Linked DNA regions of Homo sapiens. The protein of the gene in region 1 interacts with the protein of each later gene in a biochemical or structural test. Each region holds a gene or a part of one and is shown in the gene's direction. Other genes may lie near its edges.

Evidence for each region. The genes of interacting proteins can lie anywhere in the genome.
Region 2: the proteins of UBE2N (region 1) and RNF152 form a complex in vitro, tested with the Homo sapiens proteins (one study listed by BioGRID).

The regions. Positions count from the first base shown.
Region 1 is NC_000012.12:93,410,866-93,414,519, reverse strand, and holds part of UBE2N (ubiquitin-conjugating enzyme E2 N), read left to right. Parts: intron 1-3,220; coding exon 3,221-3,467; intron 3,468-3,645; coding exon 3,646-3,654. UniProt on the Homo sapiens protein: The UBE2V1-UBE2N and UBE2V2-UBE2N heterodimers catalyze the synthesis of non-canonical 'Lys-63'-linked polyubiquitin chains. This type of polyubiquitination does not lead to protein degradation by the proteasome.
Region 2 is NC_000018.10:61,882,944-61,886,597, reverse strand, and holds part of RNF152 (E3 ubiquitin-protein ligase RNF152), read left to right. Parts: intron 1-3,654. UniProt on the Homo sapiens protein: E3 ubiquitin-protein ligase that acts as a negative regulator of mTORC1 signaling by mediating ubiquitination of RagA/RRAGA and RHEB.

The DNA.
Region 1 (3,654 bases):
GGGCATCATATAGAGCGTCTTTTGGGGGCCCATTACAAGGACTATGACTTTTTTTTTTTTTTTTTTTTTTTGAGACGGAGCTTCGCTCTTTTGCCTAGGCTGGAGAGCAATGGCATGATCGGGGCTCACCGCAACCTCCACCTCCGGGGTTCAAGCGATTCTCCTGCCTCAGCCTCCCAAGTAGCTGGGATTACAGGCATGCGCCACCATGCCTAGCTAATTTTATATTTTTAGTAGAGGTGGGATTTCTCCATGTTGATCAGGCTGGTCTCGAACTCCTGACCTGAGCCGATCCACCCGCCTCGGCCTCCCAAAATGCTGGGATTACAGGTGTGAGCCACCATGCCCAGACTTTTTTTGAGATGGAGTCTCGCCCTGTCACCCAGGCTGGAGTGCAATGGCACGATCTCAGCTCACTGCAACCTCCGCCTCCTGGCTTCAAATGATTCTCCTGCCTCAGCCTCCCGAGTAGCTGGGATTACAGGCACGTGCCACCATGCCCGGCTGATTTTGTATTTTTAGTAGAGATGGGATTTCTCCATGTTGATCAGGCTGGTCTCGAACTCCTGACCTGAGGTGATCCACCCGCCTCGGCCTCCCAAAGTGCTGGGATTACAGGCGTGAGCCACCGCACCCGGCTCAGGACTATGACTTTTAAAGGGTCTGTGGATAATAGACCTGCGAGGGAGGTAGTGAGGTCAGAAGCAGGAAGAACAGGTTAGGAGGCTGTTGTAGTATGCCAGGTCAGAGCTGATGGTTGCTTGGATCAGAGGTGTAGCAGTGGAATGGTGAGAAACAGTCCAATCATGAGTAGAATTTGAAGTATAAAAAAAACCAATTTGCCAATCAGGCTAGATGTGTGTGGCATATGAAGGAAAAGGTGGATCATTTGGAAAGATGGGTTTGCCAGTAACTGATGTGGGGAAGACTTTATGGGAGGAGCAAAGGTTGGGGATAGGGAGGTCATGTTAAGTTTGGGATGCTTATTAGACATTCAAGAGTGTATATCAAGCAGGTAGTTATAGAGGCAAGAGGCACGATGAGGGGAGAGGTCTGGGCTAGATATGAATTAGGGGAGGCTTCAGCTTATAGAGTGTGTTTAGTATTTAAATTCATTGCATTACATGAGATCACTGTGGAAATGTATAAACAGAGAGGAAGCCCTAGAATAGAGCCCCAGTGCATTTCAGTGTTGCGATGTTGGGAGATAGAAGAAACCAACAAGGAAACTAAAGGAAGCTGCTGCCAGACAAGGAGGAAGAGAGCCATGAGAATGTTTATAGGAAGTTAGATAAAGCTTTGCAAAGAGGAAGGAGACCAGCTGGATAAGATGTCGCATTTAGGTAAGATAAAGATTAAGCACTGGACATTTGATTTAACCTTGTGGAAATCATTGGTGACCTTAACAAACAAGTTAGCGATAACTACAGCTTGATTGGAGGGTATGTTCAAGACAGAAGAGGAGGAGAGAAATTGGAGACAAGCAAAGTAGAGGTTCCTCTTCAAAGACTTTCCTCCCCATCTAATTAGGAATAAATAGTAACTTCTCTTAGAAGCAAAATTTATTCGAAGACCTGTGCAAACATTCTTAAATATTTGCTAGCCATAATAAAGAAATCAATATACTTTATGTTCTTAGCTCCCACAATTTAGCCTAAATATTTGCCCTGGCATGCTTATACTGGTCCAAGCAAGCATTAGGTCATAGCCTGTTCCTCTTCCTTATTTAAAAGTGTTTTTACCTTTCTCAGCATTCCACAAGTTACTTCCTCCTTCCTTTGTTCCCCTCTACCTTTACCTCTTTTAAAAAGTTCTAAGTTGCTAGCCAGTCAGGACAAATACAGAATGTGAGATCCCGTTCCAGCCAGTGGAAACCGGACACAGCAGTAGGGTGGACGCGTCAGGTTATAAATGACCCTGTCTCCTTTGTTCAGTATACTCTTGTGGCAAAACTCCTGGCGAGTGTACCCTTTCTGCAGGAAGTAAAAATGGCTTTACTAAATAAATTAAATTTATGTTCAAGTGCTATTTCTTTATGGTACCGAAGAACAAACATTTCAGAGATCAGTAAGATCTAGTGCTCAAGACCGATTGGCCCTAGCCAAGAGTACGTGACATTTCATCTATACAGGAGAAAAACCAGAGTGTATGGGTGCAGATGCAGGGAAATGTCCAAATGCTACAGTGGGAACTGATGGAAGTATCTAACTTGTCATGAAATAGGAAGCAGGACATCAGCCACAAGTGAGGATGGGGATGGAGATGCTGGAGGTTTGAAGAGAGAAGAGAAATAATAATAATACAATTATTTAGGGGAGAGGGAGAATGATGAAAAAGAGAACTAATGGTATGATTGTTGGGAGTATTAAGGGTTCCTCTGAAGTTAATTGTCAATTTTAGAGTAATCAGCATTGTTAAATATATTTCTTTAGTCCTGTTCAGGTACCTGGGCCTCTTCTTATCTCCTTTCTTTAGTCCGTTACATTTTTCAGAGGGGAGGTTTTCAGTGGGTTTAAAAACTAATTTTTGGCCGAGTGTGTTGGCCCATACCTGTAATCTCAGCACTTTGGGAAGCCAAGGCGAGCAAATCACTTGAGGCCAGGAGTTCAAGACCAGCCTGGCCAACAGGGTGATACCGTCTCTACTAAAAATACAAAAATTAGCTAGGTGTGGTGGCGCACACCTGTAATCCCAGCTACTCAGGAGGCCGAGTTGGGAGGATCACCTGGGCCCAGGGAGGTCGAGGCTGCAGTGAGCCAAGATCTTGCCACTGCACTCCAGCGTGAGTGACAAAGTGAGATCTTGTCTCAAAAACAAACAAACAAGCCAAAAAAAACCACCAAAAAAGCTAATTTTACTTTTTAAATAGCTTGGTTTTGGTTGAGTTTAGAGCAAGTTGCCTTACTTATGTAATCCTAATGTTACTTTATTTTACTTGAGTAAAAAATCAGTTTTATTAAGCTAATTTTATTAACATATTTGTAGACATTTGTAGCCAAAATGTATGATAACATCATTAGTATTCGCTTGCAGTTTCATTCAGCTGGTTGTAATTATTTAAATGGTATTTTTTTGAATTTTGCATTTTATAAGCTAAATCTGTTGGGAGATTGGAGCTGTTCTATTATGCGTAGTTCTAAGAGATGAACTTTCTAATTTTACTTTTGGTGTCTAGCAAAATGACATTTGTTTCACAAATGTGTTTGTTTTTCTGTCATAGGAAACCCAGCGTTTGCTGGCAGAACCAGTTCCTGGCATCAAAGCCGAACCAGATGAGAGCAACGCCCGTTATTTTCATGTGGTCATTGCTGGCCCTCAGGATTCCCCCTTTGAGGGAGGGACTTTTAAACTTGAACTATTCCTTCCAGAAGAATACCCAATGGCAGCCCCTAAAGTACGTTTCATGACCAAAATTTATCATCCTAATGTAGACAAGTTGGGAAGAATATGTTTAGATATTTTGAAAGGTAAGTGTTATCTTTATCAGCATATGCTATTATTAAGCTTTCTCCTTTTTCTCTTAAGCATTCCATGTTTAGAATGTAAACATTATACAAAGATCAGAGAGGTCTGTGGGAGGGAAGTGAAGCAGTTCTGGGCCTGTTTTTTTCATGCTTTATCATACTGGGCCTGTTGCCTTCATAGATAAGTGGT
Region 2 (3,654 bases), on another chromosome or scaffold:
TTCCTTCCAAGGGGGCCTGTGGCTGGCTGATGTAGCAGTTGTGACCTGCAATTAGCCTACAATGGGGGCAAAATCATGTAACAAAAAGCCTATTTTGTATTAAAGCATCAAATATCTCATGTAGTTTATTGAATACTGTATTGAAAGTGAAAAACAGATTGGTTGTATAGGCACTCAAAGAGATCTCAGTTCTCTTGCAAGCTCCTTAAAGATGACTGGATGAGGCTTTACACCATTGTGTGTTTGCCACCGTGTTTGTACACAGGAAGGGCTCAATAAACAAATCATTGGTGACTCTTTGACAACACAGAAAACGATTTTGACTTACAGTGATTTAAAGGAATTTTAGACCCTTTTAGCTTGAAGTCTTAAAGGAAGTTAAGAAGATAGAAACTTATTTTTAAGAGCTTCCCCTACTTGCATTAATAATGATTAAATGTTGAATCAAATTAGAATGACCAGGCTGCAGTACGTATACCAATGTTTGGGAGGTGAATGTTCTCAATGAGGGTCATGATTCTAACAAAATTAGTTGTTACTCAAAGCCTGTTTTTCAACTTCCATTTGCCTCCTACTTTGCCCACAAAAAAAAAAAAAAAAAAAAAAAAAAAAGAAAGCAAAAGAAAGCAAAAGAAAAAAAACCTCTACTTGGTGACATACAACAAGCAGCTTTAGGACTTTACAGCCTACCAGACCACCCCACAATCTAACGGAGCAGGCATTGATGCCTGGATTTGTGATGACTGGGTGTAGTTGCCCACCGCTGACTGCCCCACCTGCGTTTATAATTAAAGGCTTCAATACCTTTGTGATATACATCTGTTTTACCTCCCTTTTTTTGATTTTGGAATACTCATTCACATGATAGAAACTCTTCTTTGATACTCAAAATGCTTGATCATTATGAGAGTGTTATTATGAAAGAGGGAAATATGTTCAGCTGCTTGAAGAAAATGACCAGAAATACATTAATATTAAAATAACGCTCTCGGCTGGGCGTGGTGGCTCACGCCTGTAATTCCAGCACTTTGGGAGGCTGAGGCGGGTGGATTACTTGAGGTCAGGAGTTTGAGACCAGCCTGGCCAACATGGTGAAATCCCATCTCTACTAAAAATACAAAAATTATCCAAGCATGATGGTGTGCACCTGTAATCCCAGCTACTTGGGAGGCTGAGGCAGGAGAATTGCCTGAACCTGGGAGGCAGAAGTTGCAGTGAGTTGAGATCGCACCACTGCACTCCAGCCTGGGCAAAAGACCGAGGCTCTGTCTCAAACAAACAAACAAAACACTCTCAGTTTGAAAGGTAGTGAATAGGGCTGAGATAAGTGTCTCAGGAACCAAGTATTTGTTGTGATATTCTTTTGCAGTTGTGTTGTTCTGGGGTAGGTTTGCAAATTGCTTCCTCGAAGATTAATAATATGAGATTAGAAGTGGTTGGTGAGCACATGGACAAATTTGTGTACTTTGGAGAATTTACCCCTTTTGTTGCATGAGACATAAGATTACTGCCATTTTAAGTGAGTAATAGTTAATTCAACCATGCAGGTAAAGAGGTGTCCTTAACTGGGATAAATAGTCCATCCACTCCACTCCTTTACATTGGTACTTCAGAAACTGAAGGTACAGATCCATCCATTCACCTATGGTGGTGTGTAAAATAGCATTTGAAACACTGAGCATCAGGTATTTAAACCACTTATTAGGCAAACAATTGCATTCATTAAATGTATTTTGAATGGCCAGGCATGGTGACTCACGCCTGTAATCCCAGCACTTTGGGAGGCTGAGGCAGGCAGATCACCTGAAGTCAGGAGTTCAAGACCAGCCTGGCCAACATGGAGAAACCCCGTCTCTACTAAAAGATACAAATTAGGCAGGCATGGTGGTGGGCACCTGTAATCCTAGCTACTCTGGAGGCTGAGGCAGGAAGAATTGCTTGAACCTGAGAGGTGGAGGTTGCAGTGAGCTGAGATTGTGCCACTGCACTCCAGCCTGGGCGACAGAATGAGACTGTCTCAAACAAACAAACAAACAAAAGAATGTTGAATGCCTATGTTTTACCAGGCATAATTCTAAAAAAATCCCTGCCTTCTAGCTTCCTGTAGGTATTTAACTCATAATTAATTTGGTTTTCTGCTTTTTTTTTTTTTTGTAATGGCAAAGCTAAAAGGGTAGAGAATAAAAGAAATGTATCTGATATTCTCTCAATTCTTGATACCTTAGCATATATGCCTGCCTTACATGGCTCTAATTCAGGTAAGTCATTATGAACTGGAATTTTAAAAAGTAAGATGGGTTTGGGTTTAAATTTCACGTCTGCCACGTGACCTGAGTGCACAAGGTCTGACTGAGTTTGTTCTTCAGCTGCAAAATGGGGGAGAACCGACCTCATTGAGTTAGTGTAAGAACAGGAGAGACTTACATATAAAGTGCTTAGTGTGTTGCCCTCCACAATGTAAGACTAAATAAATGGCAGCTGTTGCTAACGTCCTTATATCCAGCATCTACCATCCACCAATCATTGGGCTCAGTTCTGGAAATATCGGGATGAATAGGCATGGTCTAACCTGAAGAAGCCCTTAAGCTAGCCAAGGAGGTGATGGCATCCAAGTAACTACAGCCTTCAGCGTTTACATGGGAGTTTCTTTTACCTGTCATTATTGTCAGAGTCTTTGGTTTGAAAGTCTGTAAAGCTTTCAGTGGCTCTGAGTTTAAAATGATAGGCCTTCTCAGGAGGAAGTGGGGAAAAAGCTGGAAGCAACTGGAGGAGAGGAGTCTGAGAAAGGGTTCTGAGCTAGCCCCCAGGCAACCTGAGTCTTCCTTAAAGGAGATGAGTCGCCTTTCTCCTGTGGCCTCACTCTTCCCAAGTGAAATGAAGGACATCCTCTTTCTCAGGGTCTGCTTTCTTGGGAGTAGAGTGACCCCCAGACTTGCCCATGACTAAGAGCATACCTGGGTCATGGAACTTTCCGTTTTAAAACAGTCCCAGAAAAATTGGGATGAGCTGGTCACCCTCCAGTCTTGTTCTGTGATTGTTGTTTGACATCCTGAAGCAGGCTTTGTAGAGATCTAACATTGTTAGTAGAGATACAACCATCCTACAAGAGAGGAGCAAGCGGGGCAGAATAAAATGGGAAAAAACATTGTAGCCTTGTCAACCCCTTTATTTAGGAATCTGCTTTTTGGAATGGGATATTTATTATTATTAAAAAGAAGAGAACTGTTTAATAAAGGCAAGGAATCTAGGCTATACAATATAAATATAAAGTTAATGAAACCTTTTAGAAATTCTTCTTAAAAAGGGGTAGCCGCTTGGGGCCCGGTACACAGTAGACACTCAGTAAAGACTTATTGAAATGGTGGCATCAATTTATTCTTCAGAAATATTTTTGAAAGCTGCATAGAGAAGTGCAAGAGGCCTCTGAGACATGCATTCCAGGACAGGTTGAGGGGCTGAACACTGTGGGCTTTGAACCAGTCTGCGCCTCACTCTTCTGGGCCCTTCCATCACTCATTTGAAAATGCATGCATCTAGATATGCTCTGGGTTTCCTGTGCTGGTATCTGAGTGTGTTTATGTATGAGCTGATGCTCTTCATGACTGTGTTTTTTTTCTTTCTGGTGGAACCGCATGATGCTAGCAGACAAGTTGC